Linked DNA regions of Homo sapiens: regions 1, 2, 4 and 5 are each reported to be linked to region 3. The links are microRNA targets in miRTarBase. Many come from high-throughput screens and were not tested one by one. Region 3 holds a microRNA gene; each other region holds the end of a gene's coding sequence. Distances are between the middles of the regions.

Region 1 (6,173 bases), not on the chromosome of region 3:
TTTGGCAGCTTCGGCTCTGACATATATCCAAGTCCTGGAAAGAAAGCAGATGGTTGCCTTAGCCACACAAATAATTGTCATAAAACTCTTGCACTAAAATTTGTGCAGGGAATTCTCTAGAAGTGGCCCTTGGCCCATGATTCAGAGTTTATTGATTTACTTGCACACTGTTCTAATAATCTTGGTTACCTGATTTCTCAGAATACAACAGATGAGAAACAACATATTGGAAGAAAAGAAAGGCTCTTAGATGGAGGCAGGCTGCCACTGATTATAGCACAAATCACCATGAGAGAGGAGGTAGATCCTCTGGTATGGTTAGGTACTGTTTGATAATTGATGTTTATTATGATGACTGAGTCATGACTTATGTTCAAGTGTGTCAGTCTGTTTTGTTGAGGGACATCATCAAGTATTGGGCAATGTTTCTCAAACTGTGTTCCATGAACTGTTTATAAGTATTCTACAAATGTGGTCGATTAAGTTTTAGAAATACTAAAATTTATTAATTTTAGAAAATTAATAAATTAGAAATATAGGACAGCTTCCTTTTGGGAATTCATAATACACATTAGTATATTAAATGCTTTGCAACTTTTTATTTCAGTAAAAAGTTTACTCTAGTTTTTCTAAACTTATTTGACCGTGGAATTATTTTTTCTCCCTGTGGAACATGTCGCCATCTTTTGGAACAATTTGGGAAACTTTAATCTTCTATATTTTACAAATTTTTTTGTCAAAAGTTTTTAAAAAACAAAGCATTTAAAGAAAATTGCTTTTCTGAAATGTTCTACTTTTGATGATGCTAGACAGTGACACTTACAGTAACATCCATTGTTCTTAAGTCGTTTTTTAAAAGTTGTACTTTTAAAATGATTTTCATCTCCTGGTTTTGGACAGTTCATTCATTGTGGTATGTTTGCTTATAGGGCACTTGATGACATTAGTGAAAGCATCAAAGAGCTTCAGTTTTACCGAAATAACATCTTCAAGAAAAAAATAGATGAAAAGAAGAGGAAAATTATAGAAAATGGGGAAAATGAGAAGACCGTGAGTTGATGCCAGTTATCATGCTGCCACTACATCGTTATCTGGAGGCAACTTCTGGTGGTTTTTTTTTCTCACGCTGATGGCTTGGCAGAGCACCTTCGGTTAACTTGCATCTCCAGATTGATTACTCAAGCAGACAGCACACGAAATACTATTTTTCTCCTAATATGCTGTTTCCATTATGACACAGCAGCTCCTTTGTAAGTACCAGGTCATGTCCATCCCTTGGTACATATATGCATTTGCTTTTAAACCATTTCTTTTGTTTAAATAAATAAATAAGTAAATAAAGCTAGTTCTATTGAAATGCAAACCTTTTTGTACCATCTATTCTTTAGTAGTTTAATTATTGGGAAAAGATGGCTTTTTCTTTTTTAAGTGATATGGCTAATGTTTAAACTCTTGTAATGCAATTAGGAATCGGTTAATAAGTTCATGTCAAACAGGAAGTGAATATGTTTTGCTTTAGAATAACCGCAGATAAGTTTAAAGAAGCAGATTTGGGCTCGTTGTTAGAGTTATTGAATTAACAGCACTGGACTAGGCTACTCTGCTACATTCAGGAAATTCAATTCAGACGGATTCTGTAACTAAGGTTTATTGCAAGTAATAATTAGGGCTTATTTATATGCACAGCAGTGACTGCTTGGTTTACAGAATGTAAATAGCTTGCTGCCCTAGTTCTAATGGTCAGTAAGTAGCTGAGAAAGGATTTCAATTCGAACATACTAATTCCTAAGTTTACGTATTCTAGACCACAGTACTAAGGTGATTTCCTAGCCAGAGTGTGCAATAGAATCATCTGTAGAACACATCTCATTGCTTTGTGCACCTCATTCTGACAAATTCCCCTTGAAGACAAATCAGAATTGGGAAAGGCCCACAGGTTACTTTCCTTTCCTTGAGAACCACTAGGTGAGAAGACTTCTGTGGTGATGTCAAATTACATTTCATATTACAGATATGAACATAGTAGCGTGATCCTGATGTGTGATAGTTACAGATAGATCACTAGCTAGTAGATCAGAATAACCCCATAATATTTTCATTTGAGTAACATTTTAACATGTACTAAGTTGTGTTACCTACACTACAGCTGTATCAGTGGAGAGAGGGATTGTAGTGTAACTTTTTCCAAATGAGTGAATTAAGACTGAAATTCATGAGTCTACTAAGAATGAATTTATGAAAACATAAGTCTGCTGATCTTTTTGACCACTTCTTTCTGGAATGGCATGGGTTTTAGCTTATGCACCAACTTCAGTGGCTTGGAAGGCAGGATTGGGTAGTACAGTTGACCGTTGGACAACACAGGTTTGAACTGCAGAGGTCTACTTACATGCAGATTTTCTTCTGCTTCTGCCACTCCGGGGACAGCAAGACCAACCCCTCCCCTTTCTCCTTCTCAGTCCACTAATGTAAAGATCATGAGGATGAAAACCTTTATGATGATCCACTTCCACTTAATGAACAGTAAATTTATTTTCTCTCCCTTAAGATTTTCTTAACTTTCTTTTCTGAGAGCTTACTTTATTGTAAGAATATAACATATATATTGTTCCTGATGTTTGTATAAAAAATATATTATCTCTTACATATAACATACAAAATCTATGTTAATTGACTTTATATTATCAGTAAGGCTTCTGGTCAGTAGTAGGCTATTAGTAGTTAAGTTTTGCGGGAGTCAAAAATTATATACAGATTTTTGGTTGCACAAGGGTTTGACACCCCTAACCCCCGTGTTGTTCAAGGTTCAACTGTAGTTAAGAACAGGGCTCTTGAATCAAACTCTTAATTCAAGTTCAGGCCCCTGACATACTGAGTGACTTTGGCAAGTTGCTTTTCTAAGTCTCAGTTTCCATATCTGTAAAATGAGGTTAATAACGTTACTTAATGAATTGTTAGAATTAATTTAAATGCTATTCATACAGTTCTGAGCTCAGCACAGTGAGCATCGTGTAATGATAGCTAATGAATATTGATAATAAAGGGTACTATGATTAGTTATGAGGCTGGAGGCATTATCTTAAATCAGCGTTCACTTAATGCCTATGACTGCCTACATTGTGCTGAGGACTGTAGTAAACTTCACTAATAGTGTGACCTTGACTTGGTTTAGTGTTTCCAACTAAATTTGGCAAAAGGGTCTTTGCCCTTACTTGGCTTTCAGGAATGTTAAATTCTAATGTGATGATAGATAAGAAAACACTGGGCTTAAGAAGGGTTCGTAGGAACCAGATACTGCTATTAATGAATGCCTCAAGGTTTCTTCCACACAACTGGCTGGTTTATTCACCTGTTTAACTGTTCAAGCCAGTTTAAAAATTTTTAACTCCTGGTGTTACTGCTTTAATGCTGTCTTCTGTATCTTAATTGTGTAGCTAATTCTATTGTCCTTTAGTGGAGCTTGTGTTGAATTTTAATAAAATAACTGGTAGCCTGTGAGTTAAGCAAAACCAGTCTAGTGCAGGTATATATGAAGACATGCTGGTTCAGTGATTAGTTCATTATTTTTAAGTATTTTTAAGTTAAATTTAAATTTGTAGTGCTGGTATTTAGGATTTCACAGGGGATTCCTGAAGCTATGAAGTAATTTCTGTGAAATGAACTGCAGTGCAAATTGGTTTAAATAGAACTACAGCTTGAAAAATGATCAGTATATTTGCTTAGTAGAGCTTGCCATTCTAGTGCTCTTGGGGGGCCTCTCATTTGCTGGTTCGTTCGGTGCAGTAATTGTCCTGCAAGCTATGTTCTTAGGATCGTCCAGGTGTATTTCCCCCTATTAAACTCAAGGTGAATGAATCAGTACAGATGCATTTTGACTTACAGTGGGGTTACATCCCAACAAACCCATTGTAAGTTGAAACTATTAAGTAAAAAATGCATTTAATAAATTTAGCCTACCAAACATGTTAGCCTAGCCTACCTTAAATGTACTCAGATCACTTACATTAGCCTATAGTTGGGCAAAGTCATCTTAACAGAAAGCCTATTTTATAATAAAGTGTTGAATATACCATGTAACTTAATACTGTAGAGAAGGTGAAAAGCAGAACGGTTGTATGGGTAGTCGAAGTACGATTGAAATAGTATGAGCAGACTCTAGCGCTCTCGCCAAGACACTGAACAGCAGTGCTGCTGCCTCCTGCACCCAGAGTGTTTGCTATTACCTGACCTAGAACATCTGGAGCCCATAGATCCTAAAGAGCAGCTTTTTGAGGAATGCAGGGCTGTCGTGGATACTTAACTTCCCTGGTTCCAGAGAGATTTTGTGGATCTGAGGACAGACTCCAGTAACTACCTACCTATTAGAGTCATGCAATGGAACAACTTCATCCAAGCTCTTGGAAAGACAAAGACAACTTTGTACAATGCCCTGTTGAAACACTCAAGTGAGAAGAAAGGAAGCTTCTCACGCTAGAAGAAATCCTATTCTACCAGCCTGATATATTGTGCCTCCAAGAGGTAGAACAGTATTTTGAAACCTTCCAACCACTCCTCAGGAGGCTGGGCTATCAAGGCACATTTTTTTTCCCCCAAGCCCTGGTCATCTTGTCTAGGTATAGAATACAACAGTGGACCAGACAGCTGTGCTTAATTTTTCCTCCAAAACCAAATCAGGCTAGTGAACAGTGCCAATATTAGGCTGATGGCCATGACATTGAAAACTAATCAGGTGGCCATTGCACAGTTCCTAGAGTGCAAGGAGTCAGACCAACAGTTCTGCATCGGTGTCACCCATGTAAAAGCACGCACTGGCTGGGCGTGATTTTGATCAGCTCAAGGCTGTGACCTTCTTCAGAACCTGCAAAATGTCACTCAAGGGCCAAGATTCCCCTTGTTGTTTGAGGGGACTTCAATGCAGAACCAACACAAGAGGCCTAGAAACACTTTGCTTCCTCCAGCCTCAACCTGAACAGTGCCTACAATCCCCTGAGTGCTGGTGGGCAGTCAGAACCCCCATATACTACCAGGAAGATCTGGACCCCAGGGGAGGGCAGGCACACCCTCTGGTATTCTAAGCATGCTCTAAATGTAAGGTCAGCTCTTGATCTGCTCACCAAAGAACAGATTGGATCCAACTGGCTACCATCTTTCAGACCACTGGTATCTGGTGTGTGACTTCAGCTTTAATGAGGAATCTGATGGACTTACATAAACACTTGTTTTTGTCTTTTTAATCACAAGAGTCTTAACCAGGGATGTTTCAGGAAACTGAAATAGGATAAGAAGTTGCCTAACGAAGGATAGAAACATGGGAAGTTTTTGTCATTTCATTTTTTATATTTCTAGCATGCCCTTGGGAAAGGATCCCATTAGTTTACAAATCTATAGCAAAAAGGTTTTTGCTTTTGCACTCCAGTTCTGGCGTGTATTGTTTTATTTTCCTTAGCATTACATTTTGATTGTTTAAGGGCATTAAATTGGCTTGTTTTAGCTGGGCACAGTGGCTCATGCCTGTAATTCCAGCACTGTGAGAGGCTGAGGCGGGAGGACTGCTTGAGGCCAGGAGTTTTAGACCAACCTGGGCCACATAGCAAGAGCTTGTCTCTATTTCTTAAATACATAAATAATTAAGAAAAAATGGCTAATTTTGAAGGTTTTTCAGTTTGAGGATGCTATAAAAACTCAGAATTGCTTGAATCCTCCATAATTAATCAGTATATAGGAGCAGTTTCTCTAGACAGCATGTCAAGGTATTTGTGAGTTAAAGAAATGTCAACAAGGCTAGGCGTGGTGGCTCACGCCTGTAATCTCAGCACTTTGGGAGGCCAAGACAGGAGGATCACGAGGTCAAGAGATTGAGACCATCCTGGCCAACACGGTGAAACCCCGTCTGTACTAAAAATACAAAAAATTAGCTGGACGTGGTGGTGCAGGCCTGTAGTCCCAGCTACTCGGGAGACTGAGGCAGGAGAATCACTTGAACCTGGGAGGTGGAGGTTGCAGTGGGCCAAGATGGAGCCACTGCACTCCAGCCTGGTGACAGAGCAAGACTCCATCTCAAAAAAAAAAAAAAAAAAAAAAAAGTCAACAACATACGCATGGAGATATTTTTTTAAAAAATTCACATAAAATTAAGTAACAAATTATAGCATTGTGAACATTTTAGAACCATG
Region 2 (6,173 bases), not on the chromosome of region 3:
TTGTATCCCAGATCTACCATTTCCTGTGTCGACCTTTGGCAAATTTCTAACTTTGTTAAACCTTAATTTCCTGATAATAACCATGATGGCTACTTATATGCTATTGTTATATGCTATTAAATAAGACCCGTACAATGCCTAGCACAGTGCTAGGCTTAGAGTGAGTGATCTGCAGTGTTTTTTGTTTTTTTTTGAGATGGAGTTTTGCTCTTGTTGCCCAGGCAGGAGTACAATGGTGCAATCTCAGCTCACTGCAACCTCTATCTCCCGGGTTCAAGCGATTTTCCTGCCTCAGCCTCCCAAGTAGCTGGGATTACAGGCATGCACCACCACGCCTGGCTAATTTTTTGTATTTAGTAGAGATGGGTTTCACCATGTTGGTCAGGCTGGTCTTGAACTCCTGAGCTCAGGTGATCCACCAGCCTTGGCCTCCCAAAGTGCTGGGATTACAGGCATGCACCACTGTGCCCGGCCTATCGTGTTATTTATGTGTATATCTGTTACCATCATTCATCCCTGGTCTCTAAGGCAGTTACTAGTGGCCACATTCCCTGCACTGTGGAGAGAGCTCAGCATTTAGCAGTTCGGGTTCTGCACCTACGTAAATTGTGTGACTCCGGGCAAGCCACTCTCCTTCATCTGTTCAATGGGAAGGCCAAGTGAGATAATGTGTATAAAAACACATTACTGGTCGGGTGGGGTGGCTCACGCCTGTAATCCTAGCACTTTGGGCGGCCGAGGTGGGCGGATCACGAGGTCAGGAGTTCGAGACCAGCCTGACCAACATGGTGAAACCCTGTCTATACTAAAAATACAAAAGTTAGCTGGGCATGGTGGCACGCACCCAGCTACTTGGGAGGTTGAGGCAGGAGAATCGCTTAAACCTGGGAGGCGGAGGTTCCAGTGAGCTGAGATCGTGCCACTGCACTCCAGGCTGGGCGACAGAGCAGGACTCTGTCTCAAAAACAAAACAAAACAAAAACATTATTTACCTAAAGTATTTTACAAATTTAGGGCATGATCATGAAAAGCATCTTCCTCTAAGGTTGGGCAGGGGTGGGGGTTGGTAGATAATACATTCGGAGTTTACAGGGAATGTATGTATTGATCTTCTCAAAGAAATCTTACAAAAAATCTTGAGCAGCAGATATTTTTAGCCTCATTTGATAGAAGTGAAAATCAAGGCCCTGCATGGTTAAGTGATTTACTAAAATAAAAGTCGCTTGGCTAGTGTAGAGCCATGCTGTGAATCAGTTCCTTTCCCTTTTGGTCTAGGACTCCCTCCTCTGAGTCCTGCTGTTTCCTCCAGTCTCACTGCACACCACTGCCTCATGCTTCCTGGGGCCTCCAGCAGCTCCACTAATGGAGGAGAGGCAGTAGCCTCCGACACAGAACGCATGGACCTCCTACTACTGTGTGTGAGGAACAGTCACTACCCACTGGCCAGCCACCCAGCCAACAGGTCTCTCCTCTTGGGCCCTGATTTCAGAGTCCTCTTTCTCACTAGAGACTCAATGACAGAAGAGAGGCTGGGACTTGGTTGGGCATGCTGTGGTTGCTGAGGGATGAGGGGGAGGAGAGAGGTAGGAGCTGGAGATGAAGAGGCTGCTAGAAGCAGCAGGAAGCCTGCCCTTCTGCCCTCTCCCCTCCCTGCCCCTGTGTGAGTCTTTTGGGAGGGTGCTGGGAGGTGCCCCCCGTCCCACCTTTTTCCTGTGCTCTAGGTGGGCTAAGTGCCTCCCTAGAGGACTCCATGGCTGAGAGGCTCCTGGGCAGATGGGGTCAAGGCTGGGCCAGCCCAGATGAAGCCTATGGGAGTCAGGACCCTCTCCACTCTCCCTCTCCACTCCCCTTCCTGTTCTCACCTGGCTGTGGCTGGCCCTGTGTGGGGTGGGTACACTGGAAAACAAGAAGGTTGGAGTTGGTCTAGGACATTGGTTTTAAATGACAGTTCTGTGAACTGGTCCAAGGAGTTCTGTTATTAAAGTGATATATGGTCTTGGTCCAGTTTTCTCTGTCTCCTCTCTCTCACTCGCACAAAGACAGACAGACAGACAGACAGACACAAACACATATTACAGGGTAGAATTACAATTTTCCTTCTATCTTCTATACATATTGAAGCTTTGGTGCTGACTCCTGTTCATCTACTTGAGAATTTTGGTTTGTGCTTATTTGTTTTGCCCAGGCTGGAGTGCAGTGGCACCATCTCTGCTCACTGCAGCCTCGATGTTGTGGGCTCAGTGCCTGCCACCTCAACCTCTCTGGTAGCTGGGACTACAGGTGCATGCCACCACACACGGCTAATTCTTCTTTTGTATCTTTTGTAGAAATGGGGTTTGTTTAATTCTTTAAATTTGTTAAATCTATATGTTGGCTGGGCGCGGTGGCTCACCCCTGTAATCCCAGCACTTTGGGAGGCCGAGGCCGGCAGATCACGAGGTCAGGAGATCGAGACCATCCTGGCTAACACAGTGAAACCCCATCTGTACTAAAAATACAAAAAATTAGCCAGGCATGGTGGCGGGCGCCTTGTAGTCCCAGCTACTCGGGAGGCTGAGGCAGGAGAATGGCGTGAACCTGGGAGGCAGAGATGGCAGTGAGCCGAGCCGCACTCCAGCCTGGGTGACAGAGTGAGACTCTGTCTCAAAAAAAAAAAAAAAAAAATCTACATGTCATGATCTGCAATGAAAAGCCTTAGCCATCCAGGTGCTCTGAGATCTTGAGTCTGAGAAGCACTTAAGTCAATGCTCTCTTGGGAAGGTCTGGTTTCCCTGCAAGGCCCATCTCTCCTTCTCTCTCCCCTTTTTTTTTTTTTTTTTTTTTTTTTGAGACGAAGTCTTGCTCTGTCACTCAGGCCGGAGTGCAGTGGTGCCATCTTGGCTCACTGCAACCTCTGCCTCCCGGGTTCAGGCAATTCTCCTGCCTCAGCCTCCCGAGCAGCGGGGATTACAGGCATACTGCAGCCACCATGCCTGGTTAATTTTTTGTATTTTTAGTACAGACGGGATTTCACCACGTTGGCCAGGCTGGTCTCGAACTCCTGACCTCAGGTGATCCATCTGCCTCGCCCTCCCAAAGTGCTGGTATTACAGGTGTGAGCCACCGCACCTGGACCCATCTCTCCTTCTTAGCTCTTGTTTTGGAACTGGGCCTTTGACTTGGCCTCTCTTTTTGAGTTTTATGCCCAGTTAGCATTTCCTTGGGTAAGCCTCTCCCCAACTCTCTCCTCTCTAGCAGTTAAAATGTGACTGGCATCTTCTTTCTAAAAACTGCAGTGAATTTTTTATGGTGCTTACCCAAGGAAATGCAACTAGTGTTTAGCAATAACAGAACTTTGTGAGTTTATCAGCATATTTTTTGAGGAGTTGTACAAATGATTACTCATTTCTAGAGGGTCTGCTCCCTTTACATGAAGTGCACTAGAAAATGAAGGTTTCAATTTACTGCCAGTTTATTAACCAGGGAAGTAGTTGCTGGGAGTCTGCTGTCAAACTGTAGAAGCAACGTGGGAGAAGTTCTGCTGAATGGCAAAATAGCCTCGCCCTGTGTCCCTGGAGGTCAGACCTTCAGCCTCTACCCTGGGATCAACATTTACTGCCCAGCTCCCTTAAGTCCCTGCCTCAGGAGGCACTGATGGGGTAGTAGATCCCCCTGGGCAGGGATAAGTTAACAGCAAATCCAGCAGCTGTGATCTTTTTTGTGTTTCTGATGTCAATCATAATCATTTGCATATTTAAAGGGAAGTTTAAAAAAATTACAGCCATCAAGGTCTTTCAATACTCAGTAACATTTGAATAGTGTTTTACAGTTTAGAAAACATGCCCATATGTGGGAGCTCACAAATCTATGTGGTGCAGATGTTATTATTATTGTCCTCATTTTCCAGATAAGAAAATTAATTCAGAGAGATTAAGTGACTCCCCCAAGACCACCCAGCTGGTAAGCACTAGAGCCAGGATGTCAACCGTGGGTCTTTTTACTCTAAATCCACATTACTGTCATGCACATGAATGAATGAGATGGTCCAGTATTGCACAGAAGAATAGAATTGGAAGGTACTTGCTCAGGTCACCTGGTGTAAGTCACCTGCTTATAGTAATGCCTTGGCACACCTACCTTTTTTTTTTTTTTTTTGAGACAATCTTACTCTGTCACCCAGGCTAGAGTGCAGTGGCATGATCTTGGTTCACTGCAATTTCTGCCTCCCAGGTTCAAGCGATTCTCATGCCTCAGCCTCCTGAGTGGCTGGGACTACAGGTGTGCACCACCAAGCCTGGCTAATTTTTTTTGTACTTTTTTTTTTAGTAGAGATGGGGTTTCGCCATGTTGGCCAGGCTGGTCTTGAATTCCTGGCCTCAAGCGATCCACCTGCCTTGGTCTCCCAAAGTGCTGGGATTACAGCCGTGAGCCACCACACCCGGCCTCCCACACCTACTTTTTTATAGATGAAGGAACCAAAACCCAGGAATTTAAGAGGCTCCTGCCAAAGACCCTTCTCAACAATATTCTTAGAAATTTTCAGTTCTCCCTGAGATTCACGGTCTTGACTAAAACTTACAAATGAATATCTCCTATAGGAGAGCTATAAAGGGTACCCTAATTAGAGAATTTGCTAATAAAGATTCCTTGCTTACCTATACAGAAGTTCTTGTTCTCTTTGGCCAGGCTACCAGTCAGATCTGCAGATGCAGAATCTCTCACTTTCCTTATTAGCATCTGCCAGTCCAGCTCTTTGGAAAGGGAAGGGAAGCGAGTGGCCTGGCCAGCTCCGTTCCCCTGAGCCTGCTCCTGGAATGAAGGGGTGGAGGTGGGGCCAGGAAGGTTGGGAAGATTCGGGTTCAGAAGGGCCTTAATGAGGACCAGCTGGGTTCCCAGCTATCTTAAGCTCTGTAGGGAATTCGGAGGTAGAAAAGCCGACTGTCTTATTGGAGAAATGAGACTTATTTGCAATAAATTACTAGTAGCCAGCCAGGCAGAGAGCTGAGTGGGGAGGTAGTAATTGCTCAGGGAGTTCCAAGAGCCTGTTGTTACAGAAGTCAGAGTAATTCTGTATGTGGGAAACCTCTGCCTTCCTCCGGTAGGATTCAGCATCCCACCTGCTTGGGCAGAGCTTTCGAGCCTCCTGAGATGTTCCAAGAGGGTCATTCCTGGCTGCCATGATGGGTGCAGATCCCTTCCCTCTTCTTCTGTGTGCTTGTGGGGTCTCAAGGATGCTAGAGGGTTCAGCATCCCTCTAGCATCAGATTCAGGTTCTCCCCTCCTGACACCTTCTGTGGAGTCGTGCTTTTCCTAAAAGGGTTTCTGGGAACAAGGGGCGGCCCTGCCATTCCTCAGGAACATTTCTCAGGCTCTTTCTTATATTTTCTTTTTGGAGGTGCTTGGCTCACCCACAATAGGACAAAACTGGAAATGCTATAAATGCTTAGAACTGGTTTGGTAGCTGTCAGATGTTTTCCCAAGTCCCTCTGATGCTTCTTCTCTCCTCTCTACTCTGCCGTCTCCTGGCCATGCTCTCAGGACCCTCTTGCTGCTCCACAGCTACTCAAAGGAAAACCTACCTTCACCTGCCCCCACTTTCCAGTCCAGCATCCTGGGCCTGAGCCCCATCTATACCTCCCTAGCAGACATGCTGCAGTGAACACTCAGGGTGTGCCGCACCCTCAGGACTCTGTTTCCTACTAAACTAATCAGAGCCAGGTGTTGTTAATGACTTTTTCAACTGTGTGTTAAATCCCTCCACCTCTAGGCAGGTTCGTAAGGAAGTAGGTAGGCAGCAGCTTCCTACTCCTGAGGGCTGAGGCTGGTCTCTCTCATACATTCAAGGCTGGGAAAGAGAGAGGCCAAGCAGGCCTGCCTGCTCGGAGTCTCCCCAGGGTGGAGCACTCCAGGGGGATCTGTGGAGGCTTTCACCTGGAGGTGGTGCTGGAGGGAACCAAGCTGGGGAATCAAACAGAATGGAGAGAGAAATCGTGGCTGCAGAGGCACAGAGTCCTTGCTACTTAGCCTCTCCCAGAACAGCACGTGGGCTCCAGGAAGGCAGAGACTTGCAAAAGGCTGGCATCATCTCGGAGCTTTCTCCCTTCCAAGGAACCTCTGGCTGTGACATCTGATAGTAGGAAACAATGGTTCTAGATGCAGAGTCCCATCACATCCCACGTGGGAATGTGCTGCTC
Region 3 (6,173 bases):
AGTATAAGCAGTAAATAAAATGGACCATACATTAGCAGTAGTAATACCTAATATTTTTGTAGCGCCTACCTTATGCCAGCCATTGCTCTGAATGCTTCTCTGTGTTAACTCACAGCTTCCTTATCAGAACCCGATGAGGCAGGTATTTTTTTTCTTTTTTTTTTTTTGAGGCGAAGTCTGGCTCTGTCGCCCAGGCTGGAGTGCAGTGGCGCCATTTCGGCTCACTGCAAGCTCCGTCTCCCGGGTTCACACCATTCTCCTGCCTCAGTCTCCCGAGTAGCTGGGACTACAGGCGCCTGCCACCACGCCCGGCTAATTTTTTGTATTTTTGGTAGAGACGGGGTTTCCCCGTGTTAGCCAGGATGGTCTCGATCTCCTGACCTCGTGATCCGCCCGCCTTGGCCTCCCAAAGTGCTGGGATTACAGGCGTGAGCCACCGGGCCCGGCCGAGGCAGGTATTTTTATTGTCCCCATTTTACAGATGCAGAACCTGAGCCCAGGGAACTTAAACTCCTCACTTAAGATCATGCTATGGATTGAAATGTGTCCTTCCAAAATTCGTGTTGGATTCGTGTTGAAGCCCTAACGTGCAATATGACTGCATTTGGAAATGTGGCCTCTAAGGAATCAAGGCTAAATGAAATCAGAAGGGTGGACCTTGATCTGATAGAATTAGTGTCATTATAAAAAGAGACACCAAAGAGCTCTCTCTGTCTCTCTCTCAACCGTGTGAGGACACAGCAAGAAGGCAGCTGTTGGCTAGCCAGAAAGAGTGGTCTCACCAGAAATGCATCGGCCAGAACCTTGATCTTGGACTTCCAGCCTCCAGAACTATGAGAAAACAAAAATGACTGTTGTTTAAGCCACCTAGTCTGTGGTGTTTTGGTTACCACAGCCCAAGCTGACTAATACAGATCATCTTCTAGTAAGTGGGAGAATGAGGACTTAACCCTCGCAAACTCAAGTCCAGAGTTTAGACTTTTAACTTTTCTATTTTCATACTTTCTACTGTCTCTTCTGCTGTATAAGTGATGTTATAGTTTTATGAAATATTTATATGTAATATAATAGAACATGGAATAGAAAATATTTCCTGCATATTCATTCTTGCAATGAGAAAATTATAACTAGGCAAGGAATATATATGGTACAATCTAAAGTGAGGATTAGGCCGGGCGCTGTGGCTCATGCCTGTAATCCCAGCAGTTTGGGAGGCTGAGGTGGGTGGATCACTTGAGGTCAGGTGTTTGAGACCATCCTGGCCAACATGGCGCAACCCTGTCTCTACTAAAAATACAAAAATTAGCCAGATGTGGAGGCACAATGCCTGTAATCCCAGCTACTTGGGAGGCTGAGGCAGGAGAATCGCTTGAACCCAGGAAGCGGAGGTTGCAGTGAGCCGAGATCACACCGCTGCACTCCAGCCTGAGCGACAGAATGAAACTCTCTCAATAAGTAAATAAATAAATCAAATAAAGTGAGGATTGAACAATTGAAGGGTCACTGATAATCACTGTAAGGATTTAGCGCCAGGGCTTGGCAGTACTCAGGTGAGTAAACGTTAGTTATTGCTAATATTATTCATTTATCTTATTATTGTTATAATTGAGTTAGTTCTGTGTTCTGATCCATGAGTGAATTGGCCTCCTGGAAGCTGCCCTCAAATCCCTCCTCTTTTACACAGTGATTGATGGTCCATGTCGCCTCCTTGTAGTTACAGATTAATAATAGGCCCTCCTCCTGGAAACAGGCCAAACGCCAAACCCCATGCAAGCTGGCCTGGAGAAAGCACTTCTGAAACTTCATCACCAGCAGGCAGCTAGACGACTGTTGAATGGGAGGGGGGGTGGTTTTGAAGGGTGGAATGGTGACAGAATTAGTCACCAAGTAAACAAGCAACACCTTCGATCAATGCAATGGAATGTAGGTAACCCAGGGGCCCTCCTCACTGCTCAGCTGAGGGTGACGCCAACATGGCCAGGCTGGCACACCCAGCAGAACCAGCCCTCTGCCCCCAACATCAGTAAAGACCTTGCAGGAGGAAAGAACAACCCCGCTTTGCCTGCCCCACAGTCCTGCAGCTCCATGTGTGTGCCCGCACAGTGCTAGGAACACGGCAGCTATTATCAGGAGTGCCAGGTACAGTGCTACAGGTTGCCTCCTGTACAAGGGGACACAGGGAACTGAAATCCAGTCCTCACTGAACTGCCCAAGCCCTGATTCCTGGTATGGGACTTTGTGGGTCCAGGGGCAGGGGTGCCTTGATCAAAATCACCTTGGATGTTTTAGGGCTGCTTGGTGATTGATGTTTTGCTTTCGGAGTACTTAATTATGTTTGCACAAACGGATGGTAATCCTAAAAATCTTAGAGCTCGCTCTCATAGTCTTATTATTGCACCAAACATTGTTAAGTGCATGATAATCGCAGGTAATTTTAATTGGAGGCTTACTATGTGCCAGGCAGCACCAGGGTGAGCATAGCAGGACACAAAATATAGGAAGGCAACCATCTCTGGTGCAGAATCGGCAGCAGAGAGTGAGCGCCTCCCTGCATTTTATCCCCCAGGTGCTCACTGGCTTCACCCTTGCCCTGACCCTGGTGCCAGGCACTTCACACACATTGTCTCCTTTTCCCTTGCAGAGTCCCATTATTCCCTGATTGCACAGATAAAGAAACCAAGGCTGAGCAATGCCATCCCCTCATCTCACGAACGTCACCTCCATGAGGGTAGGCACCTTACTAGTCCTACTTGCCCAAGAGTAGCAGTCAGAAAGCTACGGGGAGGCACACCTGGGGTTTGAACCTGGGTCCACGTGACTCAGGCACTCAAATCCTGAACTGCTTCAGGGCAGGGCACTTGGCTTGAAGAGAAGCTGCAGACACAGAGACAATCAAGTCACATCTAATACTCCAGCAGGACAGATGAGCCTGCAAGGTGCAAAGGTACCCCCGCCCCCAACCCAAAGCCTTTTTCAATTCCTCTCCCTCCACATCTCTTGTCATGGTAAAGCAGGCAGAATCCATGGGCTTTAACGGGCCCATTGCTTTTCCCAAAGCTCATGCCTTTTTCCTAAAAACAAAACCCTTCTGGGTTCCAGAACTCTTTGGAAAAAAAGAATCTTCTGTGATTTGGGACATTGGTTTGTTCCCCCACCCTCACTTAAATGAGAAACTACTTTAGCATGCCCCGCCCCGTCTGTTGTCTTTATTTAGGAGGAAGCACCCTCTACATACCCTGAGTATATACACCCAGGGCCTGAAGCTGCTGTGATCAGCTCAGGATCCCCAGGAGGCTGAGGCGGATCAGGCCCTGGACTCCGGGGGAACAATGTAAGGGACACCAAAAAGCTCAGCCATGGAGATGAATAGTATTTTAACATGAAATTTGTGAAAATCAAAATTACCGCTGTTCCTGATCTTATCTTTCTGTAACATGTTCATAGTTTGTTCATCACGGGTGTCTTGCCATTAATTCTGACTTTTAAAAATGTTGTGTTAACATACCGTTTATCTCCATGACTGAGTTTTTTGGCATCCCTTACATTTCGTGCCCAAGGTGAGAGTCTCACTGGCTGCACCCTCATCCCAGGCCCGACTGGACTCCAGTTCCACAGCATCCTTTCCATGAGACCTGGAACCAGATGCAGCTCCCTCTTCACCCAGCTTCATGTTCCTAGTTGTAAAATGGAGACGATGGTAACAGCGAAAACAAGAACCACAGCTAAGAGTTACTAAGTGCACAGGTATTTACGGGCAGTAGAGTCCTCTCAGCCCTTTGATCTCAGTACTGTTATTAGGTTCACTTTACAGATGAGGAAACTGAGGCCCAGAGGGCTGAGGGAACCTGCTCCAGGGCACCCAGCCAGCCCAGGGTGGAGCTGGGGCTGGCATCTGGCGGTGTGGCTGCAGCGCACCCGCATTCTAATCGCAATGACTCTTCCAGGCAGGAAACTGGTTCAGAGGGAGATGTAAACAGCAGGGGTCCTGAAGCCAGGATTTGAATCAGCAGCTGCCTCATAGGGTGGTCTTGAGCGTTAAATAAGATTCACAAAAGGCACTCCACAAGTCCTTTTTCTTGTCCTCCCACTTCTTTAGGCAATGCCTGAGGTGAAGGCTCAGATTCCACTCGGCTATGGGGCATTCTTGCCCTGACGGATCCCCAAATCACACAGCCTATCCCTCCATCCAGTGACTTCTCCCCATGTCCTGTGCTTGAAATGACCCTCAATAGTTCCACCAAATAGGAGTTATTTATGTGGCTATGCGCCTAACACTGACCACATTGTCATTTGCTCCTTGTAAAACTAAAAACTTTGAGATGAGTGCTATCTTTGGGTCCATTTCACAGATAGTGGAACTGAGGCTTACACATATCCAAGGCCACACAGTGAACAGAAGGCAGAGCTGGGATCAAACTTGACCCTGTCTGACCCCTGGCCTCTATATGACACCGTCTACCACAAACAGCAAACCCTCCAGCCATGCCTAAAGGATCTGAAAGCAGTTACCTGCTGAGCCCCTGTGGGAGTATCTTCAGTCCCCTCGTGTCACCCGGAGCTGCTCCTGCACAGGGTCCTGGGTCTCCAGTGCGTGCTGCCCAGTGCCTGGCTGTCGGTGGAGCCTGGCTCCCTGCACTTTGCTTCCTTGTGCAGAGCCTGCTGGCTGAATACACAGAGCAGGGCAAACACAAGCCTGGGTGGAGTCCTCCCTTCTCCCCGGACCATCCTGCAGAAACAGGTTCTCTTCCTGATGTGGGGCTGCCCTCCCAACTCCAATAAAAACTGAGCACCTGACTCCTCTCGCATTAATGCCTCCCTGGCACCCCAAGTATTCTACCCAGTGCCCCTCACCTACTGAGGCTGCCGGGTTGACCTGGGGAAGCAGTTTCCTTCCCCAGTAACCGTAGGTCATGGTCAGAGCAGGGAAAACACGTTCTGTGAGATTTTGTAGTTCTGTCTGCTGACTTCAGAACACCACCTCCACCACCACCTAACCACCTAATTGGAAGGAAATAGCTTCTCATCCACTCAACTACCCCTAGTCATGTAAACCTTATTCCCAAAGGGGTTTGGACACCAGAAATCAGGTAACCTGAGGGTGGTTTATTGCTCTGGAGACATACCATGATGTTGGAAAGGGCATTCTTTTTCTTTGCAGGCCAGAAATTCGACAGGCTATGCAATTTATTTAATTCAAGCAAGGATGTTGTTTAAAGTGTCTTACAAGGACATATACAATAGATTATGAGAGCATGAAATAACATGTAACAAAAGAAGATTGAAGAACAAAATTTGGAACATCAAATGAGAACAGGATCAAAAATAAATGCTCTTGTTGATTTACAGACTTGCTATGAAGGGTTTGCAGATATGGCTTTGAGCTTCCTAACAGCCAATGCAAGAAAGGAAACTTGATAAGTTACACTACTTAGTGCTCTGGAGAAGACATTCAAGAGAATTGCGACCAATAATTATTGTGGTTTTATTCAACAGTATACTCAGCTTAACCCCTATCATGAATACTTGTCAAGCACCAGGCTATATATATAAGCCAGAGTTTAAAGAGGTGAGTAAAAGATGCTGGGTCTCTACCCTTCTTGCACTCAGTGTCATTGGACATAGAATCCTGTAAATATAAACATAGAATTACAGGGTGTGATTCTCATTATAAAAGAAAAGCCAAGGCAGCTAAGGGAGAGAAATAGAGAGAGCTGGGGAAGGCCTCTTTCAGAAATCAACATTTAAGAAAAAAAATACTATTTAAATAAATGCTGAATACACAACCAGGCACACCGTAATTAGGGTTGTAAAGTCGATTCCAGCTCAGCACTGTACATGTCAATCTGGAATGTAGTAAACCCAATTATTAAGCAGCTGCCATGCACACGCTCTGTGCTGACCCAAGCCTGGAGGCTCAGGAGCTTGAGCTCTGGCCCTGGGTTGAGACAGACAAGGGCTCGGATCTTGATTCTTACTGATCGGCTGTGGAATTATGAGCAAGCTACTGTACTTCCCTAAGTCTCTGTCAGCCCCCTCAGCTGTGTGCTCCTTTGTGTTTATTTTGCATCTATTCTTGTATCCCCAACTCCTGGCACCCTGCAAAACGAGGATGGGGATCCCTCTATGATAGAGTAGGTACTCTGCAACTCCTGGCTGATTGGACTTGTTCATTC
Region 4 (5,987 bases), not on the chromosome of region 3:
TTTTTAATAGAGATGGGGTTTTACCGTGTTGGCCAGGATGGGCTTGATCTCCGACCTCGTGATCTGCCCACCTCGGCCTCCCAAAGTGCTGGGATTACAGGCGTGAGTCACCGCGCCCGGCTGCTATGTTCCTTTCTTATTCACTGTCTCTGAGATGCAGGGCACCAAGACTGAATCATTGAGGGCTGGGAGGGACAGCGACACTGTTTCTTGCCACAGTGACTTCATTCCAGAAAGGATAATGCATAAGGGGTGGGAGTTAGTTCATTCACCCAGAAGACCTGGGCCACTCTCACAGGTGCTCAATACCTGCTGACCTCCCTCCCTGTGCTGTGTTCTGGGTACTTTGGCAGGACAGAGAGGACTGGGTGGAGGAGCCAACAGTACTGGTGTTGCTCCGGGCAGAGGCATTTGTGTCCATGATCGACAATGGAAAGCAGGTGGGCAGAGCCAGAGGGTGGGAGGACACGGAACAGAGGGCTGACTCTTACTAGGAAGCAAGTATTAATGCAGTTTCTGCCCCTTCATGCAGGGAAGCCTGGACAGCACTATGAAAGGGAAGGAAACGCTTCAGGGCTTTGTAACTGACATCACAGCAAAGACAGCAGGGAAAGCTCTGTCACTGGTGATTGTGGATCAGGAGAAATGCTTCAGGTTTGGATTTGCCCTGGTGATTTCATGTTAAAAGGGGCAGCTCTTGGGCCAAGGGGGGTGAGTTTAGTTTATTCATTGCAGATGTAGGTCACTCTGCAAGGTAGTCCATCTCTAACAAGTCCAGGGGGATGCTCTGGTCCAGTCTTCTTCTGTATCTTCTGCCTGACTTCAGCCTGGAGCTGCTGTTCTTTGATTTCCTCCCCTGCACCAGTGCTCAGAATCCTCCAAGAAGAGGGAAACAGGGAGCAAATAAACAGACCAAGAAGCAGCAGCAGAGACAACCAGAGGCCAGCATAGGGTCCATGGTATCCAGGGTAGACGCTGAAGAGGTAAGAACGTCCTGTTGCCTGAATCGGGCTGGGTACTCACTGGTCACCTGAGACTTGCTATTGATAGAGAATAAAATGCCTGCTGCGTACTGTTTTCTGCCTTGGCACTGACTAAGAGAAGGTACCAAACAGGAAGCCAAGGGGCTGGGGTGTGGCTTTAGTGGACAGTGACTTGGCAGCTAGTCTCTTCCTACCCTTCCAGTCCATCGTTGCTTTTGGGTTTCTAGGCATTGGTGGATCTGCAGCTACACACAGAAGCCCAGGCTCAAATTGTGCAGAGCTGGAAAGAGCTGGCCGACTTCACATGCGCATTCACAAAGGCTGTGGCTGAGGCGCCCTTCAAGTGAGTAACCCCAGCAAGTCCAGCCTCCATGCTGGGCCTGTCCTTTACCATGGCTCTTGCAGTCAAAGCAAATGTCCCTTTCCCCTCATCTCTGCAGTCAGCCCATTGTCTCTCAAGCTTGAGGCAGAAGGAGCTGACCTCACACTGGGGATTCTTGGGAAGAGTCCTCAAGCCTAGCGCCTTTTCAAATATTCTCCTTTCGCCTATATGTAAGTATGTGTTCTGCAGGCTGATATCATAGGCCAGGTTACCATAGGCCAAGTTACCAGGATTAATTACAGGTCAGATCACAATGTAATAAGCACTAGGAAAGCAAATTTTTGGCCTACTCAGTTCAAGAAGTGTTCACTGTCAGAATTTAAAATAAGTAAATGACCTCAGAGACAATCCAGTCCAAGTCCCTTATTTTATACTTGAGGGGACTGAGGCCTGAAGAGATTGACTTGTCTAAGCTCCTAGCAGTTAGAAGAACCAGAAATAGATTGCAGATTGCCAGATATCCAAAGAATCTGGTATCTTTTCTTCTACTATAATGGACTAGATGTAGTTTTTAAATGAATCAGCAACTGGCCCTATACCTGGCAACAAAGTGAGCACTCAAATTGTCAAAGGCACAAAAAGGCCAGATGTAACATGGCGCCCACCTCTTCCAAGGTCAGTGGGGGGGTTTTCAGTTGCCACTTGAGGGGAACAGGTGTAGAAGAGTAATGAGCAACTTACAGCTCTCCAACCACGCTGTTGCAGGAAGCTCCGAGATGAAACTACCTTCTCCTTCTGTCTGGAGAGTGACTGGGCTGGAGGGGTGAAGGTGGACCTTGCTGGCAGGGGACTCGCACTAGTCTGGAGGAGACAGATTCAGCAGCTGAACCGAGTCAGCCTGGAAATGGCCAGTGCAGTTGTGAATGCCTATCCCTCCCCACAGCTCCTGGTACAGGTATGCTGCTCCAGGGCTCAGGGGTCACTGCCCATTGCCTGCGGGCTCAGTGGGCCCCCAGATTTCCATGGACAACTGTTGAGGGCCCACAAAGGCCTCACAGGTCAGCAGTGCAGGTCTACTAAGATCAGTGTTGCTAATGCTGACCCAGGGAGGGAGGACAGGTTCTCATGCCCCAAGCCAAGCGTAGCACCCTCCATGCTCATGGAGAAGGGATCACCATGGATGGTACCATATTAAGAGGTCATCTACCACTTCCAGGCTTATCAGCAGTGTTTTTCGGATAAAGAACGCCAGAATTTGCTCGCAGACATACAGGTGCGCCGTGGGGAAGGTGTGACATCCACTTCTCGCCGCATTGGACCAGAACTATCCAGGCGTATCTACCTTCAGATGACCACTTTACAGCCACATCTCTCTTTAGATAGTGCTGACTGATTCTAGCCCTCAGGGATGAGGATGAAAAGCTGGAAACTTCCACTTCCCCAACCTCAGAGCCTGACTGTAATGAAGAGACTGGCAGCACCTCCTGGAACACAAGCCTAGGTGAGGCCCAGTCTTTCTTGGGTCTTATTATTTGTGAAGGTCTCTCTGCCTGTCGGCTGGGGCAGAGACTGAAATACTGCCACCTACCTTTGGCATTTAATGTTCCTCTCCTGGCAAAAATTCACTGCCACAGACAAACCACCCCCACTCCTACCCAGCCAGCCCTCAAAACACAAAGGAACAAAGACAGTCCACTCAGACACTTATTTAATAACTGTAGAAATCCAAAAGAATTAGCATCAAATCTTGAAGTCGTGAGTGAAGCTGCGGGTTGGCTTGACTGGGCTCAGCCACTGAGCTGCCTCAACCGGCCAAGGAACGGGATTATGATGACTATGCGGACTTCTATATTGTCTTCATCTCATTGTGTGTATTATGTATTTAGTTTCAATAAAGCATTTGTACCAATGGCTCTGGAGCTTGGAGGAAGACTAAAGGAATGTGTAGTGATTCTGAGTAAGATGTAGACCTACGCAGCAGAGCTATGGGGGAGAAGATTAACAAAGTCCTTTCTTCCAATATCAGGATAGTCATGAGTTGCAGTCCCATCCAAAAGGTCATTAGGGCTAAAAGGCCCTCTGTGTCTCTGAACTATGAGATTCTTGCTCCCTCCGGGGGAGCCAAGGAGCTTGCAACTGGGAGTTTGCAGTGAATGAGCACCATGACACAGTCATTTCTGATCCCTCTATCCAGCTGTTGTGAAAAGATGAAGCAAAGGAGGCAAGAAAATGCTTAATTTAGCAGACAAGAGAATGGACAGTGTGATCCTTGTTTGTGCTAGCCATTGGGTGATGCACCACTTTTCAGCTCCATGATGCTACTTGTTTCCCTTCATATCCTGTTTCCATTTATGCCCTTCAGTTATGGTCTAGAATCAAACAATTCTAAACCTCAGTGTCTTATGAAGCTGACACTTCAAAACCTGCAGAAGCAGGTTGCCTTTGAGGTATTTAGTCACACCAAGTACAACTAGAGCTGTCATAGACAGTGTAGGTTTGCAGAGATCCACCTCCTTGCTTACTGGCAATTAGGGAGTTAATGCTCTAAAATTAGGCAAGGAGCCTGGACTGTTGCCATTTTATGGAAGCCACATAAGTTGGGCAGGACTCCACAGGAGCTGCCCGTGACCTGATGATAGCAAGAGATTTCTATCTCTGAGTCGTGAAATCTGTCTACCATGAAAGAGTCTATGCTTCACCTGAGGAATAATCGATTCTGGTGTGAGTTCTGGTCTCTCAGGACATTATAAAGGAGGGAAAATGATGTAAAGGGAAGAAAGAATACCAGAGTGGGAATCCAGTTTTGCCTCAAACTAGCTGGGAGACTAGGCAAGTCATGGAAGACCTCAGTTTCTCTGTCTGCAAGTGTTATATTGGACTGGATGGTCATGAAGTCCCTTTCATAGCCAGAGATTTTGTGTGGCTGCTAAAATGCTTACATCTCTGAGGTCCTAAAGAAAACAGGAATACCCCTACCTCCCAGTTTAGACTGGATTTACTGAGCGTGGTGTTCTAGTCCCCCCCAGTTCCTCCTGATCTACCCTGATTCCCAGGGAGGAATGAAAGGGTTTGTGGCATACAAAAGTATAAATGTAGTGACAGCTGACCATTTAGTAGAAACGAGCCTTGCCTTTACACAGCTTTATATAACAACTAGAAAAGGCTATGTTTTCTCTCTCCCCACCCCCAAGCCTACTCCTTTAGGCATGCAGGTAACTGCCCCCCACGCCCCCCCGCCACCTCCCATTTCTCCTCATTCCTTCAGGGAACCCTGACTAAGGAATGAAGAAGTCCTACAAAGAGGAGGTCTCATGTACCAATCTGCAGCCATTTGATGATGGCAGGTAGGTCTGATGCTAAAAAGAGGTTGTGTCCAGCAGAACCCAATTCCATAGGAATCCAAACTCCAAGGCTGGGAGGCAGCAGGTGCTGGGGACAAGCTCACTGCTGAGAGTCGGTCTGGAGGACCCACTGGAGGATCTCATGGCGGCGTAGACCCTGGACCGCATTGTCATAGATGGTGTTCACGCTGGTGCAGAGGGGCTGCTGCTGCAGCTCTGTCACCCGACAAGCAACCAGCCCTCCCGCCACACCAAATAGCAGCAGCAGCAGCAGCAGCTTCAGCACAGCCCAGGAACGAGTGTGCTTCCGGGGTGGTGGCTTGCGGGGACGGGAGCCAGACTTAGATTCTGGAGGAAAAGTAACAGTAGACAAAGCAAGTTCAGTCAGAGGAGACCTGCTCTATACTAATCTCTGCTAGTCTCCTCCGTGCAGATCTACCTACATTCCTTCCTCAAGCAAAAACTCCCCAGGCCCTGAAGAGAAAAAATGTCTCCACAGACCGAAACAGAAACAACTTTTCCCTTGGATCTGAAGGGGGTAGATTTGCAACTGGCACTCATTCTGCGTGTCTCATGTAGCTCACAGCCCTCAGGGTCCTAAGTTCTCCTTGGTAACATGGTGATCCACGCCTCTTGGGATCGCAGAGGGAGAGGCTTATCAGGAAGCATCCAGCGCTGACAGAGTACTGTCCACTTGGGGAAACACGGTCAGGATTTATCATTATTGTCATTATTATGATATAATGTGTATATAAAAAGAAAGCCCAAAAGGTAATACACCATATTGTAAGCAGTGATGATTGCTAGGAATGGGGGAGTACAGGTGGTTGCCATTTTCTGATATATGTATCTAGATAGATAGGTATCTTTTCTCAATTCTTTGCAATGAACATATGTTACATTTTTAATTAGAAAAAAATTGGTTTTGAGATTTTTAGACAAAATTTTTAAAAACTTGACTGATCATCCACAATGCCAGGAACTGCATGATCCTGCTTCCTCATTTAATCCTTATCACTACCCTGTATGATCTTCATTTTCAACAAGGAAATTAAAAACCAGTGAGATCAGGAAGGTGGAGGCCTGTGGCCCTGTCCTGGTCAAGACAAGGGTGAGTAGGGGCAGGGCCACAGGCCTCCACTCTCTGTACAGAGCTCCTTCCCTCACCTGCCTCTCCCTCAGGAGTCCCTTTTCACCCAGAGGGTATCTGATCCTCTGCAGCATGTGGAGCCACGTCACTAACGAAATTCAACCATAGTCAGGTAAAACACAAAAATGTGTTTTCTATACAATGTGGCTCCCTGAATGCAGGCCAAATGACTCCTCTAGTGTTCAAGCAGT
Region 5 (6,048 bases), 20 Mb from region 3:
AAACTTCCTCCCACTAAGCAGGACTGAATTCAGTTTCTGTAACTTGTAACCAGAAGTCCTTACTACACCTACTGAGGGTGGTTGTGGAGATTAAGTAAATGTAAAATGTGCTTTTTAACAGCAGGTGTTCAGGAAATGGTTTACTGTTATGGAGGAAGTTTATTATGAAGAATCTGGCTACTGGTGGAGGGATTTTGATTTGCCTAAAACCTCAATCAATCAATGATCTGGTTGGGATGAAAACCAAGGATGCCTGGCTCAGAATCTTTTGCTCTGCTTTGCCTTCTCTATTTCTGTGGTCTTGTCAGACAGGCCTACTGCATATAACATCCTATGGGGCAGGTTATGACCTTACGGGTCAACCTGGCCAGGGATGGCAAATACCTGACGCTCACGTGCCCACACTTGAATTCCATGCTCATAAGAGAAACTGCCAAACTATCATGTCAGTATTTCCAAACAGTCTGAAAATTGCTGCAGATCCTCAAAAGGCACTCCAGGCAGCTGCTACTAAAAGTTCTGAGTTGGCAAGTGAAATGAGTCCTGAGGTAGATTTTTTAAATATGGCCATATTTTGAAGCTCCTCCTGTTAAGAAGAATTTGGGCTTAGCCATGTGACTTACTTTGGCCAAAAGATACGTCATAGCAATATCCTCAAGAGCACTCGCATACTGGGCTTGTCTTCTCTTGCGGTTTTTGGAACTCAGCCATGATGTCTAGAATCCTGGGTCAGCCTGCTAGATGCTGGAACGTGTGGCCCAGTTGCCCAGCCAACCACCTGACAGGCGGGCGAGGCCATCTGAGACCAGCCAGTCCCCAGCTGATCTGCCAGCTCACTTCAGCCACACGAGGGCCCAGATGAGATAAGAACCACCACACTGAACACAGCCCAAACTGCCAAGCCACTCACTCAGGAGCTAATAAATGTTTATTAAGGCTACTAAATTTGGGGGTGGTTTGTTATACAACAGTCAGTAACTGAACAAAGGCCCATTTACTATCCCTGATCCAGATCAACCTCTCATTTTACAGCTGAGGAAACTGAGACCTGGTAAGGAAAAAGACTTGCCCAGGGTCATCAACCTGGCTGGCAGCAACAGGGGGAAAGTCCCAGGCCTCTTAGCTCACAATCCAGTATACCCACTGGCTGCTCTATTCTTTCAAGATGGCTGTGAGGATCACAAATGAGGCTTTCAATCTGAAAACATCTAAAGACTGATCCTTTAGGCAGAATCCGGTACCACATTTATCACCATCTCCTTCTGGAGTTTTCAGATGTTAGAAAAATGACAACTGTTGCGCAGCGGAATGGATGTTTTTGCTGCCCCGACTCAGAGGAAGGGCATGTGTATGCACTGTTAGAAGCCAACCTCCCACCCAAGGGCCTGGCTGTGTGCTTTCCCAGGGGCTGGAGCATCCAGGGGCTTTTCTGGAGTTCCAGGATGGGACTCTCGTTCTCCCTGTCCAGCATATGACCCGGTGCCAGCATGACCAGGCAAAGCCTTATGGGCCAAGGTGAGTAGAGCTGATGCCTGCTACCCTTGAAGGTATCTTCCCTGCTTTTCTCACGGTTCTCCAAGCCTGGCATACTAAGGAAGCCTATGGTCACAAGCCCATGATCAACCTGACCCTCAAGCTCTGAAACGTTGAGTTCCTCAGTAAAGCATGCTTGGGTAGGACCTGCAGCAGGCATATAGCACTAGGCTCTGGGGGCAGTGCCTAGTGCTATTGTGCCCTCAGTGTGAGGTTCATTCAGCTCTAAATCCCATTCTTTGGACTTTGCCCAAGTTCCAATCCAGGCTAGCAGCTGTCCCCCATGTTTCACAGATGGGGACACCAAGAGCTAAGGGCAGTAATGACTTGCCAGGGTATTGAAATGGGTCTGTTATAGCTGGCTCTCGCCTTCTGGGCAAGGAAAGATGTGGGTACATGGATGGGTGAAGTATGTTCCACTGAGAGCTCTTCAGGGAGATGAGGCACTCCTTGCAGACCTAGCCCCTTCCTCTGTACACCCTCTTCAGCTCTCCAAATAGAAGCCTTTTGATTTGACTAAGCTGGGCCAAGGCCCAGCCCAATTCCAAGGGGCCTGTTTCTCACCCCATGCCTGCATCTCATGGCCTCAGGGCCTCAGCCTCCACCATGGGCTCTTGACAAATCTCTACTCTCTCCCTGCTGCCCAGGGTCCATGGCAAGCAAATATATGGGGACCGTGATCCCCCTGGGGCAGCTAATACTCAGGCAATGGCCAAGCATGGATTGGGGCTTTTGGCTCAGGTATGAAGCCAGAACTCTGGCCACCTTGGGGCTGGCCTAGTCAGGCCCCAGCAGAGCTTGGGAATATCAAAGCACAGAGCTACACTGGGGCCTCAGAGTGCTCGCCTGCCCAGGATGACAGGCAGGAGGGCTGCTCAGTGAGAGAGACTTCCCGGTGGAGTTTGAGCACTGCCCAAAGCCTCCACCCTCTACCAAAACATGGAGCCAAAGCCCAGGAGGAAGCTTCCCTGGAGGCTGTAGACCGGGTTGGTTTGAAATGGGGAGTTTTCAATAAGGATTCCAGCAGATCTGCAAACTTTGATCAACACGTAAAGATGGAGGGAAAACCTAAAGCCCTTTTTGATGATGGGATTGAATTTTTCTGTGTTGGGGGAAGGCTTCCAGAGGAGAGAACAGGCAATTAAAGAGCAGTCGGAGGGTCTGGGAGACTTCTCAGAGGTGGCGACACCACAGCAGCAGCTTCGTCCTGAGCGGCTATTTCCCAGGTAGAGAAAGTAGGAGCAGGAGGAGTACGTGCCAGGCCTGGAACAAAGCCTATTTCTGGGTGCTGCCCTCCCACAGCTCCATACCAACGAGACCAGCCTAAGTGGCCACATATGAATCCCGCAGTTCACTGGACCAGGGTAGGTACTTGTAACCTATGAGTGATTAGGAAAAAAAATTACAGTGGCAGTCGATTCTCTCTTGGGAACTTGAACATGGGGAAAATGGATCCATTCATTGTGGGGAATGAAGGGGGAAGTAGGTGACATTAGCAGTACACAATGAGCATGTATAAGCAGCACACGTTTGAAGGAACCCGGCTGATTGTTAGAGAACAAATGTCTAGACGGGTGGCCCAAGACAGGGGCAGACAGGCTGCGTGTCTCCGGATGCAAACTTCCTACTGATTGCTGTCACTGGAGTACGCTCTATTCCTTGCTACCAAACCTGCCCGGAGTGTGAAGAACTTGTGTGTTTTGTGAGACTGAGATGTAGGGTTTGTGTCAGGGGCAGGAAAGGGGTGGTGACAAGAAACAGGAGAGGCTGGAGTAAGCAGGATCTTACACCCTACATTCAGGAGGTAGGGTTTTGTCCTGATGATGAAGAGTCAGTAAAGGGATTTTAGGCAGGGAAGGGATACGTTTCAGAAAGACTGCGTGGCTGCTGGGAGATGGTACAGGGCAGAGGCAGAAGACTGGGAGGCTGGTGGGAGGACAACGTCCAAATGAAAAAATTATAGTGTCCTAAGCCAGAAGAGAGAAGGTAGAGACTGGCAGACTCTAGAATCCTTTTAAGAGCTGGGAAAGACCAGACTTAGAAGCTGGGGAAAGAGATAAGGTCTTGACCTACTATGGGGTAAACCAAGTGGGTCACAACTGCTTGACACTTCAGCCAGCAAGATGCTCATGGGCCAGCATATCCAACCCTCCCCAGTGGCCCCACTGGCCATTTTAATCACCACTGAGGACACTAAGGTCCAGATGGATCAGTATTAGGCACCCTAGACCAGCTTTTTGGTTGGCAGAGGGGCCGGGATATCTTCATGAGAAAACACAAACCATCCCATCTCAGAACAGGTTGGGATCCAATCTCTTTATTGTCAGGGTCCCCTCCCTGTGGCCCCCCGCCAAACCTATAGAAAAAACCCAAGCCTGGGAGTGTCCTGGGGAGGGGAGGTAGTATGGGGAAACCCCTGTGCTCTACCCTCTGGCCTGGGCAGTGCAGACAGGGAGGGCTCATGGGGAAGGAGTAGGCCAGTAACTCCACCTGCAGAGGACATGGCACTGGCTGGGATGCGTTGGGGGAGGAGGCGCCTGCTGCCAGCTTTCCTCTGGTACCCGCTGGGGGGTGGCATCCAGGGTTGGGTGCCCGGCTTGAGGCCTGGGGCAGCGATGCCCTTCACCTGCTGGTGGCCATTGCTCCTGTCAGGCTGAGAAAGAGAGAGAGAGAAAGAAGAGACTAAGGCTGAGAGGAAGAGACCCTGTTGCTGATAAAAGGGGTAGGGAAGAAAGGGTGGAATGATGTCTGGAGACAGAGAGATTCTTGCACTCTGGCTGTGGCCTCATAATTTCCTGGCCATGTAACCTTGGGCAAGTCTCACCCGCTCTCTGAACCTCCATTTCCTCACCTGAGCCCATATAACTCACCTGTGAACTATTTTAACAAGCTTTGGAAAGCACCAGGCACAAAGGGGTGTAGCAGGATGGCTGGATATGGAGGTTTGTTTGCATCCCAGGCAAAACAAACCAAGAAGTTCCAAAAGAAGACTGCATATGTACAATTTTCTAAAGCTCTTCTGGAAGCCTTTGCTGGTGGGATATCTTACTACAGCATAAATGTGTCATCTATCCAGACACCTCCCTGGAAACACTAGTGTTTGAGACCTTCCTCCACCCAAGCCACCCCAAGGGAATGGGTCAGAGAGTAGTAGGCACAGCCAGGTGTGGCCTGGCTTTCCTTTAAGGTAGGGCAGAGTAGATGGTAAACAGTGGCCAGAGAGTGGGCTTTGAAGCCACACACCACTGGGCTGAAATCCAGGCTCCACCAACTACTACCTTATCTCCCTGCACCCTTTAGTGTCTGTTTCCACATCTATTATATTGGTACAATCATCAGCTTGTGGGATTGAAGATGAACTCAGAGAAAGCAGGTGCAGCTCCTGTCACACAGGGCATTTCCTCCCCATGAAAGAATCAAATCCCAGCCCCTAAGCCTGACACATACGGCCCTTCACAATCATCACCCTCTGACAATAAGCAGAGTCCTCTACCAACTAGGGGGGCACTGCAGCCACAGGAGGCTCTTGGCCTCACCACATACCAAGGACTGTCACAGCTCTGTATGGCTAAGGCCATTCCCCTGGTGTGGAACATTGCTCCCTCAATCACTAGCAGGCTCAGCTACACATCATCTCTTCCATGACCTGGCCTCGCTCTATTGTTATCCTGCTCACACTAGGTGGTAATGGCTTATGTCTTCCTCTACCAGACTAGGAGCTCCTCAAGGGCAGAGACAGGCAACATGGCTGAGTGTGCTGAGGGAAGGAACCCTTGCTAGGTGGGCCCGCCTGGCCCATCTACGGCACCTGCTTCCTCAGCATGGCAAGCCCCAAGCATGAAGGGGTGTGACGGGATGGCTAGATATGGAGGGGACTTCATTCTTGGGTATAGTCAGTGCTACTTGGCCAGGTATGCTTCGTGACACTTCCTGCCCAATCCAGGGAAAAGGCACAACCTCCACTTCACTGATTCCCCACCCTCTGCCCATCAGGACAGGACCCCTGTACCTGCTTACTGCAAGGCCCCATCATCCGCGTCTGTGTCCTGGCTGTGTTCCTGATAGGGAGGAGGTAAGAGAGACCACACATCACTCATTGCCAGCTCTGAGTCCTGCCCTGAGCCATTTGTCCAGAAAAACTTCATGGTCCAGAGGGCATCTAGAGGACACAGTCAGAAGACGCAGGAACAGCCAAGGGGAATGACTATGGGACCAGCCAACAAAGCTGGCTTGGGAACTTGGAAGGGTGGTCTGAGGACCCCACACAGGCCAGTGAAGGGTGTTCTGGGAGTGGCAGGAGCCCCATTTCTGTGCAGAGAGCCTGCACTGGAGAAGGCTGAAAGCCTTATAGACTGGTGAGCTCCCCATCTCTGGGGGCATCCAAGTCTTTGTTAGGGCCTTTATGGACACTGCTATGCCTGAGAAAATAAGATGAAGGATCAGGCTACGCTCAAAGGAGAGATGAGCTAGCATAAGGCAGACCTCCTAACCGTCATGGCCATGAGCCCATCTGTT

The links. The annotated mature microRNA hsa-miR-4756-5p reads CAGGGAGGCGCUCACUCUCUGCU and lies in region 3 at 2,529-2,551, opposite strand. An mRNA with a match to its seed (bases 2 to 7 or 8) in the 3' UTR can be bound and repressed. Matches are read on the target gene's strand: a 7mer-m8 pairs with bases 2 to 8, a 7mer-A1 pairs with bases 2 to 7 and ends in A, and an 8mer does both.
Region 1: the mRNA of REXO2 is a reported target of hsa-miR-4756-5p. The part of its 3' UTR that is shown has no 7-base or 8-base seed match.
Region 2: miRTarBase lists TMPRSS5 as a target of hsa-miR-4756-5p. Seed matches in the 3' UTR shown: 7mer-m8 at 1,646-1,652 and 8mer at 1,734-1,741.
Region 4: the mRNA of LRRC59 is a reported target of hsa-miR-4756-5p. Seed matches in the 3' UTR shown: 7mer-m8 at 4,357-4,363 and 7mer-A1 at 3,835-3,841.
Region 5: miRTarBase lists RALY as a target of hsa-miR-4756-5p. Seed matches in the 3' UTR shown: 7mer-m8 at 3,984-3,990.

What each region holds. Positions count from the first base shown.
Region 1 is chr11:114,448,917-114,455,089 of GRCh38, forward strand. It overlaps REXO2 (RNA exonuclease 2), which reads left to right. Exons shown (of 7, transcript NM_015523.4): 7 at 930-1,363. The coding sequence ends at 1,059. It also overlaps the pseudogene LOC100422382. Among named protein-coding and RNA genes, the nearest start is that of REXO2, 13 kb to the left of the region's middle.
Region 2 is chr11:113,683,377-113,689,549 of GRCh38, reverse strand. TMPRSS5 (transmembrane serine protease 5) reads left to right here. Exons shown (of 13, transcript NM_030770.4): 13 at 1,276-2,000. The coding sequence ends at 1,290. LOC107984390 (a long non-coding RNA gene) reads left to right here and starts at 3,040. Exons shown (of 3, transcript XR_001748391.2): 1 at 3,040-6,173. RefSeq lists an enhancer at 1-210.
Region 3 is chr20:54,065,924-54,072,096 of GRCh38, forward strand. MIR4756 (microRNA 4756) reads right to left here and starts at 2,562; the gene lies at 2,485-2,562. BCAS1 (brain enriched myelin associated protein 1) reads right to left here and starts at 4,671. Exons shown (of 13, transcript NM_001366298.2): 1 at 4,510-4,671. RefSeq lists an enhancer at 3,390-4,264.
Region 4 is chr17:50,378,242-50,384,228 of GRCh38, forward strand. LRRC59 (leucine rich repeat containing 59) reads right to left here. Exons shown (of 7, transcript NM_018509.4): 7 at 2,997-4,994. The coding sequence ends at 4,747. EME1 (essential meiotic structure-specific endonuclease 1) reads left to right here. Exons shown (of 9, transcript NM_152463.4): 4 at 354-440; 5 at 533-654; 6 at 866-983; 7 at 1,211-1,326; 8 at 2,071-2,260; 9 at 2,522-3,242. The coding sequence ends at 2,698. Among named protein-coding and RNA genes, the nearest start is that of EME1, 8.0 kb to the left of the region's middle.
Region 5 is chr20:34,078,048-34,084,095 of GRCh38, reverse strand. RALY (RALY heterogeneous nuclear ribonucleoprotein) reads right to left here. Exons shown (of 10, transcript NM_016732.3): 9 at 5,543-5,591; 10 at 1-4,186. The coding sequence ends at 5,547. Among named protein-coding and RNA genes, the nearest start is that of EIF2S2, 31 kb to the left of the region's middle.